4 separate regions of the Homo sapiens genome follow, and regions 1, 2 and 3 are each reported to be linked to region 4. The links are microRNA targets in miRTarBase. Many come from high-throughput screens and were not tested one by one. Region 4 holds a microRNA gene; each other region holds the end of a gene's coding sequence.

The links. The annotated mature microRNA hsa-miR-548e-3p reads AAAAACUGAGACUACUUUUGCA and lies in region 4 at 775-796, opposite strand. An mRNA with a match to its seed (bases 2 to 7 or 8) in the 3' UTR can be bound and repressed. Matches are read on the target gene's strand: a 7mer-m8 pairs with bases 2 to 8, a 7mer-A1 pairs with bases 2 to 7 and ends in A, and an 8mer does both.
Region 1: the mRNA of LNPK is a reported target of hsa-miR-548e-3p. Seed matches in the 3' UTR shown: 7mer-m8 at 1,163-1,169.
Region 2: the mRNA of INSIG1 is a reported target of hsa-miR-548e-3p. Seed matches in the 3' UTR shown: 7mer-m8 at 1,064-1,070 and 7mer-m8 at 1,928-1,934.
Region 3: the mRNA of AVL9 is a reported target of hsa-miR-548e-3p. Seed matches in the 3' UTR shown: 7mer-m8 at 1,457-1,463.

Annotation. Positions count from the first base shown.
Region 1 is chr2:175,927,365-175,930,611 of GRCh38, forward strand. LNPK (lunapark, ER junction formation factor) reads right to left here. Exons shown (of 13, transcript NM_030650.3): 13 at 1-2,835. The coding sequence ends at 2,603. Among named protein-coding and RNA genes, the nearest start is that of LNPK, 73 kb to the right of the region's middle.
Region 2 is chr7:155,307,563-155,310,809 of GRCh38, forward strand. It overlaps INSIG1 (insulin induced gene 1), which reads left to right. Exons shown (of 6, transcript NM_005542.6): 6 at 679-2,673. The coding sequence ends at 708. It overlaps LOC105375592 (a long non-coding RNA gene), which reads right to left. Exons shown (of 3, transcript XR_007060612.1): 3 at 2,631-3,247. Among named protein-coding and RNA genes, the nearest start is that of INSIG1-DT, 10 kb to the left of the region's middle.
Region 3 is chr7:32,583,629-32,586,875 of GRCh38, forward strand. It overlaps AVL9 (AVL9 cell migration associated), which reads left to right. Exons shown (of 16, transcript NM_015060.3): 16 at 164-3,247. The coding sequence ends at 279. It also overlaps the pseudogene DPY19L1P1. Among named protein-coding and RNA genes, the nearest start is that of AVL9, 90 kb to the left of the region's middle.
Region 4 is chr10:110,986,774-110,989,773 of GRCh38, reverse strand. It overlaps MIR548E (microRNA 548e), which reads right to left and starts at 848; the gene lies at 761-848. The region is part of intron 3 of SHOC2 (SHOC2 leucine rich repeat scaffold protein); the gene reads right to left.

The DNA.
Region 1 (3,247 bases), not on the chromosome of region 4:
TAAACTAGCAAACAAATCAAATACACATTGTGATAAGGATGGTGAGCAGAGAGTGACATGATAGGGAGTAAAAGGCAGAGGCCAGCTTCAGATGGGGAGTTTGGGAAGGCATCTCTCTGAGGAGGCAAAATTTAAGCTGAAATCTGAGGCAGGAAAGGGCATGGTCAGAGAACTGAAAGGAGTTCCATATGGCTACAGCACAATGATGGCGGGAAGACGGAGAGACAGAAGCTAGACCATGTTTGTAGATCATGCTCAGGACATAGAAGAATTTAGATGACCCACTGAACAATTGTAAGCAAGGAAGCTAAGATCACTGTAGCTAATGGTACTTAATAGCTTGGATTTTCTCATTTATACTAGTCTTAATAATCAGAAATAGGACATTTTACTAAGTTTCAACCATTAACTGTTTATTATAATAATAATGAAAATAAGCTTTTGTATCTAAAAGGATACTATATGGTTACAAACATGTTACCTATCGCATTAATTTTACTAATCCCCTTTTAACCTTCCTCCATATTTCTTTCAAAGATATTTCTCATACTATCTGTTTGAGTCTATCAAATTTCTCTGAGGTACTCACTCATTTTCAAGCAATGTATATCAGAATTTGAATGTTTTATAACAACATGACTAAGCAAGATGTTACTAAAATCCATATGGGTCAGTAACATACAAAAAACCTGATGAAATTATTTTTAAAAAGTTTATATTCCACAGAGTTTCAGTTTCCTATTTCCTTAATCTATGTATTTATATACATACATACAATATAGAAAAGTTGATGCAAAAAACATTGGCTTGAATCTGAGAAGCTGAATTACATGTTCGTATTATTTTTTACTTTCCTCATCTGCAAGAGGAAAAACTTATGGTCCTTGCATATTTTAAAGACATTAATAAGAACAAATGCCATCGTTTTCAGGTAGTGTGCTAGGCACATTACATTATTTTTAATTATCCTAATACCCTTCAAAAATAAACATAACTCTTCCCATTTTACAGATGAAAAAATAATCTCAGTGAGTTTATAGGTGACTTGCCCAAGACTACAGACCTGAAATTTAAGCCCAATACGGCAGGCTCAAAAACTCTGGTTACTATACCGGATGTCCCAGACTGTTAACAGATTGAGTTCCAAAAAAAAAAAAAAAAAAAAACTGTCACATATGAGATATTAAATCATAAAAATAGATTTTTAAATGATAAAAATGTTTTGTTCAGTTGTTAATAAACTGTGTGCAACTTAGAAACATTAGCCAAACACACCATTCTTATACAGGTATATTTTTCCCTTCAGCATAATAATTTGATTTCCATTTTTTTTAATATTGGAGAAGAGAGATAAAAGGAGGCCGTAACAGATAAGCACACTGTATTAAAGGTCCAAGAATTAGCACTGAGACACATTTTTTCCAGTTAATCCTTAATACAAATATTAAATCCAATTAACTACCAGCAACCCACTACCTATTCTCACAAAATTTGTTTCTCAAAGTTAAAAATTACAAATGGCTGGCCTACGATGTTCCTGAATCAGAAAAACCTAACTTCTGATTAAAACCTCTAAATGTCACTATTTCTGTTAACTAGAAAGGAAACAAGTCTGAATAAAAGTACCATAATTTGCTCTAAGCAGAATCTACAGATTTATTGTATTGTGAGCTATTCCTCCTAAGATTTTTCAGGTAGCCAAGTCACCCACCAAGATACTGTTTGAAGAAGACTAGATATTTAGCAAAATGAAACTGATGCCAGATTATTTTCATTTTCCTTAATAAAATACAAACAAGAGCACAAAATTCACTTATATATCATCATTTTATACTTATAAATAATGCTCAGAATTCAAATAGGGTCAAGTGCAGAAATATTTCCTATATGCTAGTGTGTAAATATAAACTAATTATATACATAATGTGCCTTTGGCCCAGTTGTAAAATAAAAGACATCAAAAAGAAACACTGCAGTTGACTGTTTCATTGCATTCTCACTGAGAATTCGTACCAGTGCCAACGTAGTTACAGTTCTACTTAACTGTTCCACTGCATTCTTATTGAGAATTCGTACCAGTGCCTATGTGGTAACAACTTTCATACCGCTTAATGTAAACACCTAAATAGACATTTCTCCCAGTTGTAAATATCTCAGGAGCTAAAATTCTATCAATTTTTAATAATGAAGTAGTCAAAATCTTAACCAAGTTTCATTCCTTAAAACAAACACAATTAGAGAACTTACTCTTAACCAAAGTTCTTCCTATGTCAAAATGGATATTTACGGGTTATACATACAGAAAACAAGAAGGCAATCATGTTTGCTTACTTTTAGAATGGACAAAAAAGTATCTAAAAGCTGTCTCAATAGTGTGGGTCTTTGTACATTCAAAAGGATCTTACTTCACTGATATAACTTGCTTTTAATTTTAATACCCAGTATATATAACTTTGAGATGTTCAAATAGCTAGGCAATCTGAATTCAAATGATACACAAGCATACCCTTAGAGGGGCAAAAAAAGTAAGTGCCACCGAAAAAGCAATAACTGACATCAGTAAGACTATAAATATCCAGTTGAAGGCACGTGGAAGCATTTACTACTCTGCCGTCAAAGATTCTCCACTTAGTTCAGGATCAGGAATAGAATCAGCTCCAGGAACTGTGGAGTTGGTTTCAATCACTGAGGCTTCCTCATTCTCAGTCTCTTGTTTCTCCTCTGGTTCCTCTGAGTCAGATGCTTTTTCAATCACTTGGTTTGTCTGTTCTGTAGCTGGTATTTTGTCATCTGTCTGCTCTGTATTATCATCAAGAACATCGTGTTCTAAAGATTCTGAAAAGATAAAGATTCAAAACTTTAGGAATACCTGAACGTTAAAACTGCTAAATAAGGCAAGCAAAAAAGATAAACACACACACACACACACACACACACACACACACACACACACAAAGAAACCATACAATTGTCTAACATTATCCTTAAAATCTTTTACAATAAGTACATAACTCTCTTTACAGTTAGTATGATAGAAGAAAAAAAAAGTAATTCAGAGGAAAAAAACCCATAAATATACTTTTTCTAATGTCCCATATTTTCATACAAAATAAGTTACTAAAGACACATCTGAAAGTTGAAGTCCAAAAATCATAGTCCCAACAGAATTATGTGCTATAATACAATAGTCCAGCAAACAATGCAAATGTATTAATGTCCAGATTACATTTCCTGAAGAAACTGTTTC
Region 2 (3,247 bases), not on the chromosome of region 4:
TCATAGTAGTAACTGTAGTGTCTACCTCTCAGAAGCTCTGTGAGGGTCAGATGAGGAAGAACATGTAGAAAGGATTTCCCAACTGTGAAGCTCTGTGTGAATTGAGGGCACACAGAGCTTCAGTATTACAAAGCATGACCTATTTCCAATGTCTGTTTCAACAAACTGCTGGTAAGGTGGGTTATAACACAGGCATCAGATACTAATAAAGGTTTGTGGCAGAAACCTCCCTTCAGATAAAGGTTCAATCCCTTAAATTGCAGTTAGAACTTTCAGGAACCTATCATACCCTAAGCATCACCATGCTTTGATAAAATTGGGTGTTTCCTTTATATAGATATTAATTTAGTTAAACTTTCACCAATATCTTACACTTATATAACAGGCTTTATATAAGGGCCTCAGCAGCGTAATTTCACCTGAGGCAGAGAATTATCCTAATTTTGCAGGTGAGAGCTGTGGCTCACGGGGCCAGAGCCATGAAGACGGTGCAGGGGAGCTGGGAGAGCTGGCCTCGGTCTCCAGTTCTCTGCACATGTCCCACCTCTCAATCTTGTTGCTTCAGTCAAAGAAAGTGTCAATCTTTCCCATGTTAGGACCTACTTAATTGGTAATTAAAATATTTATACATTTAGTGCTAATTTTCTCTTTCCTTTTTTTTTTCCTTTCTACACATAGGGTGTTCCTGAAAAGCCCCATAGTGATTGAGTCTTCAAAACCACCGATTCTGAGAGCAAGGAAGATTTTGGAAGAAAATCTGACTGTGGATTATGACAAAGATTATCTTTTTTCTTAAGTAATCTATTTAGATCGGGCTGACTGTACAAATGACTCCTGGAAAAAACTCTTCACCTAGTCTAGAATAGGGAGGTGGAGAATGATGACTTACCCTGAAGTCTTCCCTTGACTGCCCGCACTGGCGCCTGTCTGTGCCCTGGAGCATTCTGCCCAGGCTACGTGGGTTCAGGCAGGTGGCAGCTTCCCAAGTATTCGATTTCATTCATGTGATTAAAACAAGTTGCCATATTTCAAAGCCTTGAACTAAGACTCAATTACCAACCCGCAGTTTTGTGTCAGTGCCCAAAGGAGGTAGGTTGATGGTGCTTAACAAACATGAAGTATGGTGTAATAGGAATAATATTTATCCAAAAGATTTTTAAAAATAGGGCTGTGTTTAAAAAAAAAAACAAAACAAGAAAAGCAGCAGTGATTATAGAGAGGTCACACTCTAAGTGGGGTCGCGGCGTGGCCACGCTTCACGGTCACGCTCGTCCGTCCTGCAGTGGCGTGTTTACATGGTCACACGTGTGTGTATCACCAGTGGGTCAACTGCTTGTCATTCCTCCCGTGGCAGTTTGTGTAGACAATCTTACTGAGCAAAAGGCAATGAAAAGTCTTGGTTCCCACACTGCGATATATTGGAATTTTCACCTCAGTTTATGAAGTTTATTTCGAAATCCATAGTCATCTAAGAATGAATACCTGTCTGCCATGTATTTCAATCTTAGTGAGCCAAAATTGTTTGTTTGTTACTACAGAATAGAGATGACTGTTTTTTGCCACAGCCCTATGGAATTTGCAATCTGTGATTGCCTTGTAAAAAGGAGAGTGCATATGGCACTGCATTAAACGTGTGGTGTTTCTAGTCAATGATATTGGTGAGCACAATGTATTCATTTAATGGCATAGACCATACCAGACCTAATTTGCAAGTATTGGGTCTTAAACTTCAAGTGCAATGTATATGAAAACCAATCTGAGCCTTGTATCTCTTAAATATTTATTTTTTTTAACGTGTGAGATGTTCGAGAGAAGGTTCTCCATTCATTTCAGTGCTGCCTGGAGGAAACTCGGCAATGATTTCTTTCAGTTGTGAAGTTCCTTTCGTGTTACACCCTCCACTGAACCCTCAACCTTCGAAATACTCCAGTTTTGTGGGTTTGGTCATTTTTACTTATAAATTTACCTTTTTGTATTTTGCAATTTACATGTGTTTGGTTTGTTTTAAATTCTGTGAAAGTGGCTTGATTAAAAGACTCCTTTTAAATGGAAGCCACCAGTCAGCAGAATGGAAGCTTAGAGGAACTTGCCTGTGAGCGCTGGTCTTTGTGTTTGGTTTTGTGATGTAACGATCTTTGCTGGGGTTTTTTGCTTTGTTTTGAGGGAAATGTCTTGGAGTAAATTTTAAGTTCCTGGAGTTAATTTGTTTTACAGGAATTTTGTTTTTTAAAAAAATAGGATCATTCTGAACTTTGGAATGACCCCCTTATATATTTTCTGAAAATGAAAACAGTTACATGAAAAAAATTTCCAATGAAGATGTCAGCATTTTATGAAAAACCAGAAGTTATTAGATGAAAGCAGCGAGTGAATCTTTAAAACAGACTTGATCACGCACACACAATAAGTCTTTCTCTCCGAAACCGGAAGTAAATCTATATCTGTTAGAAATAATGTAGCCAAAAGAATGTAAATTTGAGGATTTTTTTGCCAATAGTTTATAGAAAATATATGAACCAAAGTGATTTGAGTTTGTAAAAATGTAAAATAGTATGAACAAAATTTGCACTCTACCAGATTTGAACATCTAGTGAGGTTCACATTCATACTAAGTTTTCAACATTGTGTTCTTTTTGCATTCATTTTTTACTTTTATTAAAGGTTCAAAACCAAGTGTTGTATTTATGTTTGCTTTTTAAAAAACAGTTGGGGTGGTGGTCTCTGTGTAGGATGTTAGAATTTGTAATGGAGAAATATTTTGCAGTTCTTCAAATTTTACTGAATTTTGACACAACCTCTTGGGAAGTATTTGAATCATCCTTCAATATACACAGGACATTGGTTCCAGGATACCCCACGTATGCGAAAATCTGCATACTCAAGTCTGGCACTTGGCCCTACGGAACCTGCGTACACTAAAAGTCAGCCCTCCGTATACGTGGGTTTCACATTCAGCAAATAAACCATGTTTGGTTGGAAAAGCTCCATGTATATAAGTGGACCCACAGGTTCAAACCCTGTGTTGTTTAAGGGTCAACAGTATGTGTTTTTCTTATGGTAGAAAGTTTTAAGTGCAGCACGAGCTGAATTGAACCTGCCACCTTACCCCTCCTCACCACAGGCACCCGGTTTTCAGGCAGGAGGAGCGGGCATGCCTGGCCTGTCACAGGGGCAGCTTCCCTGCTGCCAGCCGGCGTGGCTGGAGTTACTTGCACTCACAGGTTATCACGATGGGATGAGAACTGAA
Region 3 (3,247 bases), not on the chromosome of region 4:
TGACCACTGCACTGCACTCCAGCCTGGGCGACAGAGTAAGACGCTGTCTCAAAAAACATTTTTTTAAATTTTTAATTAAAAATGTATTAATTATGTTGGTCTTTCACTGTCTCGTAACAAAAGTTAAGACATTTTTCCTTTTGTTTTTCTCCTCTCCATCCAGGCCAGTCAGTTGGAGGAGCTTTTTCCAGTGCAAAGACAGCTATGTCTTCATGGCTTTCCACTTTCACCACTTCCACCTCCCAAAGTCTCACTGAGCCACCAGATGAGAAGCCTTGAGCAAGGCGTCAGAGGCTGCTATTGCTTTCTGAGGTTTAAGTGTCCCCTGTCTGTCTGCTGCTCCCAGGCTGTTACTAGCCACAGATCCACAGCAGGGGACCATATGTCGAACTGTTTACATGGATGTTGCTCTAAGTGAATGTTTCGGGATGCCGAAATGATGAAATCACAGCCATAGCAGGGATGGCTTTCCAGGTTGGGGTTTCAATTGACTACTTTTATTTCAGTCTGAGCCTGATTAAAACATACAGTGAACCTTCTAATGAATTTTGAGTTCTGATATTGTACATTGGTTTACTTTAGAAGAGTTTTTACTTATGTAAATTTTGTTCTGTTTTGGTGTTTGAATATCTAGATGGTCACTGTAATTTATACTTGCTAAAATTAATTTATATTACCATTTTCTCTAAAGTTGGCCTTAAAACGTGCTTATAAAGTGAAGGGGTCATACAGTTGGGCCTTCATTATTTTGCTGAATTATGTGATGATTTTTTTGCTTTCTACCCACAAAACATTTATTAATTCACTTCCTCCCAGAAACATGAAAGTTAGAGGTGGTAGTTCTGAGGATTGGGTGTTTTGTTTTACGTTTTTAGTTTGTTCTTTCCACATCCTTAAAAACTTGGTTTCAGACATCAAGGAGTATCACTGTGCTTTCCTCCTCTTTATAACTGTGCAGGTGGGTGTGCAGAGAAATAGCAGAGTGATGGTTCGATGATACTGAAGCAGTTTAACATGAATGTGTCTGTAGGGCAATACTTTCAAAGAAGACCTATGTGTTTATTTTTCAACCGCAGTCATGTTGCAGTCTTACAAGCACTTTTTTTTTATTCCAGAGTTTGTGCCATCTGTTTCTCTTTTTTTTTTTGGGGGGGGGGGGGGGGCGGGGTCTCACTCTATCGCCCAGGCTGGAGTGCAGTGGTGCCATCTCGGCTCACTGCAACCTCCATCTCCCGGGTTCAAGCAATTCTTGTACCTCAGCCTCCCAAGTAGCTGGGATTATGGACATGCGCCACCATGCCCAGCTAATTATTGTATTTTTAGTAGAGACGGGGTTTTGCCATGTTGGCCAGGCTGGTCTTGATCTCCTGGCCTCAAGTGATCTGCCCGCCTCAGCCTCTCAAAGTGCTGGGACTACAGGCATGAGCCACTGCGCCTGGCCTGTTTCTTTTTTAAACAGTTTTCTATTGGGTGTTTGCAGACCTACAGCTTTTCTCGTAGTCTTATTCATAAAGCTTTTCAAAGCACTTAGTCTTCTACTTCCCTAACTGAAAGTCCTCCTATAATCAATCCCTACCCCCTTCTAGAAGTATCTTAAAAGAAAAGCAAGGTGATTGTAAGTATTAAATAGAAATCTCATCTTAGTTTATATTCAGCAAAGTAAGAGGCAAGAGAAGAAAACTGCAGCCTTGACATCTGTCATCTGAGAAAGGATATCTGGTTTCATGTTAGGCACATACATGCATGTGTGTGCCATCTACTGATGATTTGTACACAGCTGGACCTCGTGTGTTTGCCATGCTCAGCTCTCATTTGCTTTTCAAGGATACCTGGGATGGCTGTTCTCAGAGAGTACTTACGGGGAACAGACTGCCTTTTAGTAACAAGGGATACTTGGGAAATACATTGTGAGTATGATCTATCCCAGATTGCTGGGGAAATAAAGGAGGGCCCTGATTATATTTGGTTTATTCCTCACTAAATGTTTAAGAAGTAAATGCTCCCAAGGCATTTGAAATGAACATAGAAACATAATCTAAATGTCTCTAAATTTTCCACTTTGTGTTTTCTAAACACAAATTGTATTACTCATTTGAGCATAACTCAAGAATTCAGCGATGATAAATTGAAGGGCTGAATGTGAGAACTCCATTAATTCCACTTCTTCCAAGAAAGTTAACCTCAGGAAATGCTGTTTGAAGAGAAGAAAGTAGTACCAAACAAAAACCTTAAACAGTACTTGAATCTTTTTTGCGCTGAGACTATAAAGAATTCATTCTAACATCTTGTTTCATAAGGGCCACATCATTCGTTGGAGCATGATAGTGTGATTTGTGTACAATTGTTACCTCTCAGCTGCTGAAGTTCACACTTCAAGGATCTAGGAGCTCTGTGAGGGGTCGTCCAGCAAGATGCTGATTTGTCTTTCAGTTGGTATGGTTTCTGTGATCGGGGTAAACTCCCGTCTCCCACTATTCAAAAGCAGCCCAACTCATGCTTTGGAATCCACTGAAATAAAAATAGTTACATGAAGTTTAACTTTGCTTTAATATCACTTGTTCCTCATTGAATATACACTTTGATCGGACTTTCTATTAACATTTCTAGCTAAGAGTTTGACTCTTAGTGGTCACTTTACTGACTTTCCAACATAAAACAAGTATCTCAGAAGATACAACTTTCATCATAGAAATGGTCAAAAGACCATAGCTATATTTCCTTCAGGTTCTGGGAGGTGGAGTTTTTCAAGGAACACTGGCTGTTGTATTGTTGGCAGGGGCCCCAAGGCAGCTCGCACAATCAAAGGCAGGAAGCCTCACCCCTGGTCCTGTGACCCCCCCCCCCCACACACACACATACTTCAGGCTTGGATTCTAGGCTCCAAGTGGCCAGCATAGAAGCAGCAGCCTCTCTCCAAACCCTGGCTCTGTGAGCCATAGGAACCAGCACTAGGTCATCTTCTGACATAGCCCTGGTGAAGGTGTGTGTGTGTTGGTGGCCACACTTGCTAAGGCTTTTGTGTCTAAGAATTGAGTATTTGTACCTAGGTGTGAGGGAACCAGGGTCAGCCAGCCTTTTTCAGATGGCGCCAGGCACACACACTACATCAATGGCTTGCTGGTGGCTTCACCACTATCCAGGTGACTTAAAAGAGTGTTTGGAAAATGTCCCTGGTATACTTCAATTCCTACTAGACATTGTAATGACAATGGTGTAGGTAAGGAAGAGAGAGTTAAAACTACCAGTT
Region 4 (3,000 bases):
TGAATTGGCCCAGAGTATACTAGGAAAATATGATCCTGAAAAATAAACACTGATAAATAAAATATAGTTCTTAAAATTTCAGAAATCTAGAAATAATACTTTGGCTGGCCAAGCAAAATGACTAAGTCACTTATCATGGGGAAAAAAGAAAATGGACTGGCCTCTTATTTTTGTACATTCAATTCCAGAAGAAGGTAGAACTACCTGTTAACAAGTTCTACTGAGATCCTCAAGGAAAGGCAGTTTGATCCAATTATTTTGTATCTATCTAAATTGTTCTTAAATTATAAAAGCTACACACATGCAAGAACTATAGGAGAATACTGCTCCCATGAACCATTTTTGAGCAAATGACTACCAACCAGATTGACTTCAGCCAACCAAGAAATGACTGAGGCAACTATGGCAACAGGACTGCTGATAAACATTAAGACTAAAACAAAAATGGGAATTAGTACAACAAGGTATGTTACCTATGCTGACAATGCAGTTAACAAAAATAAGAAGAAAAAGAGACTCCTCCAGAAACGGCAGAAAGTAGAATAAACTCATTGATTGCCTCATCTGTACCATGATTCATATTTATGGATCACTCCACCCAACAAAAGTAGAATACACATTAAACTGCACATGGAATACTTTTACCATGATGAAAGAATTCAAGTCCTATCAGGAATGTTCTTGACCACAATGGAGGTAAATTAGAAGTCAATAATATATCATGGAAAATTGTCAAGCTTTTGGGAACAAAATAACATTCTTCTATCAGGTTGGTGCAAAAGTAGTCTCAGTTTTTGCCTTTAAAAGTAATAGCAAAAACCGCGATTGCTTTTGTACCAACCTAATAAAGCCATAGATCACAGAAGAAACAAAAGGGTAAATTAGAAAAAACTTTTAAAAGGAAAATACAACATATCAGAATTTGTGGGATGCTGCTGAAGCAGTACTTAAGGGGAAATTTACAGTGCTAACTGTCTTTATGAGAATAATAGAAAGGTCTCAAATTAATGACCTCAAGCTGCCACCATAAGAAACTAGAAAAAGAACAAATAAAACTCAAAGTAAGCTGGTGAAATAAAGTTCAAAATGGAAATCAATGAAATAAAAACCAGAGAAACAATAGGGAAAATCAATAAAACTAAGAGAGGATCAACACAATTGATATACTTCTAACCAGAATGATTAAGAAAAAGAGAAAACATACAAATTCTTGATATCAGGAATTAGAGAGGTGGCATTACTATAGATTCTACAGATATTAAAATAATAAGAATGTTATGAACAACTTAATGCTTTTAAATGTGATAATTGAAATAAAACAAATATATTCCTTGAAAGACCCATATGACCAAGTTTGCTGAAGAAGAAAGTGATAACCTGAATAGCCCTATATTTATTAAAGTAATTGAAATTGCTTTAAAACAAATTCCCATAAAGAAAAGTCCTGTCCTGGATGGCTTCACTGGTGAATTTTATCAAATATTAAAGGAAGAAATAATGCAATTTCATACAAACTATTCCAAAAATTGAACATACGTAGCCAGCATTACCCTGAAACCAAAAACCAGGTAAAGATAGGTTGTATAACATTACATGTGAATTTATTATTTATTCAAAACAAATACATCTAATATTTAAAACTACCACCAGAATGTAACTTTTTAATTTATTTCTTCTTGGTAAGCAATTTTGGTCTTATTATCCGGGTTTTTATCAAGTTCAGGGAAACATTATAAAATTATATTTTATAACTATCACCACTATTTGGCCTTCTGGAACGTCTAGTCCTATCTGCCATGACTTTTTAACTTTTCACTTCTTTTGTATACATTTCTTTTTGATCTAGATTCTAGGGGACTTTTAATTTATCCTAGAGATCATCACTTTGGTCTCTGGCTGTGTTCATTTGGTTATATGGAATTTTCCATTAAATTTGATTTGGCAAACATATCTCTAAGAATTGTATTTTATTCTTTGTTCCCTTTTTGTATCAGCCTCATCATGTTTTAAACATGCAGTTTAAATATCCTATGTTTTTTTTCTCCTAAGGTCACATCTCCTTGTTCATCTTGGCCATTTCAATAGATTTTAAAGAGAAAAAAAAGCATGAAATAATTGTGCTTGGTCCTTATTATCTTGAACCAGAAATCTGATTCTCTTATTTTATACAGGACATTTAGTAGAATATTTATTTTGGATATTAATAGAATAATTCATTATGTGTTGGAGACAATCTTGCCTTTCAGAGGGACATCTAAACCATAAACCAGTTAACTAGAATATGTAATCTCTTTCCACTACAAATAGTAATACGATAGTGTCATGGGCCAAAAATCAGGGAAACATAGATTCTAACGGCTATTTATTACATCCATGTCTCAGCTTGCTTTTCTGTAAATAATTGTCCTGTATAACCTAAGACAATCTACTCAACCCTGCTAAGAAATTCCCTAACAACTGCTTTGTTTCAAGTAATGGTAGGTAATTCAAATAAATTCTCCCAATAAAAAAATAAATAAATAAAAACATCTTCCAAAACCAAAATCAGAGAGTTAACAACGTAATGACTAAGCACCAGAACAGAAACAAGCTGGGAACCCAGATACAAGCAAAACAATGGAGATAATTCTGTCCTAAGAACACAGCCCTAACTGGAAGATGCAGCTAAAAGGCTAAGTTATTTTTCCAGCAAGAGTCAAAATCTAGGGCCTGCCAAGGGTGGGGACTCTAGTCATCAACCTCAACTGGGACCCTCTAGAGCTGCACCCTACCAGTAAGGGTGAACTGGAAATAAAATAGTCATCCAGTTAGCCTGCAGCAAAACTTTTAATCACTTGGGGGACCACACACATCTCAAGCCTTGAACACGAATTGATTGAAGTGATCCCCTCTCTACTAGGTACCCAACAGAGGCAGACAAAAACTCTTCTGGAGAAAGATAACATCATCACAGGCCTCAAATGATTTAGTAATCATGCCTCTAAAATATTCATGACTGGA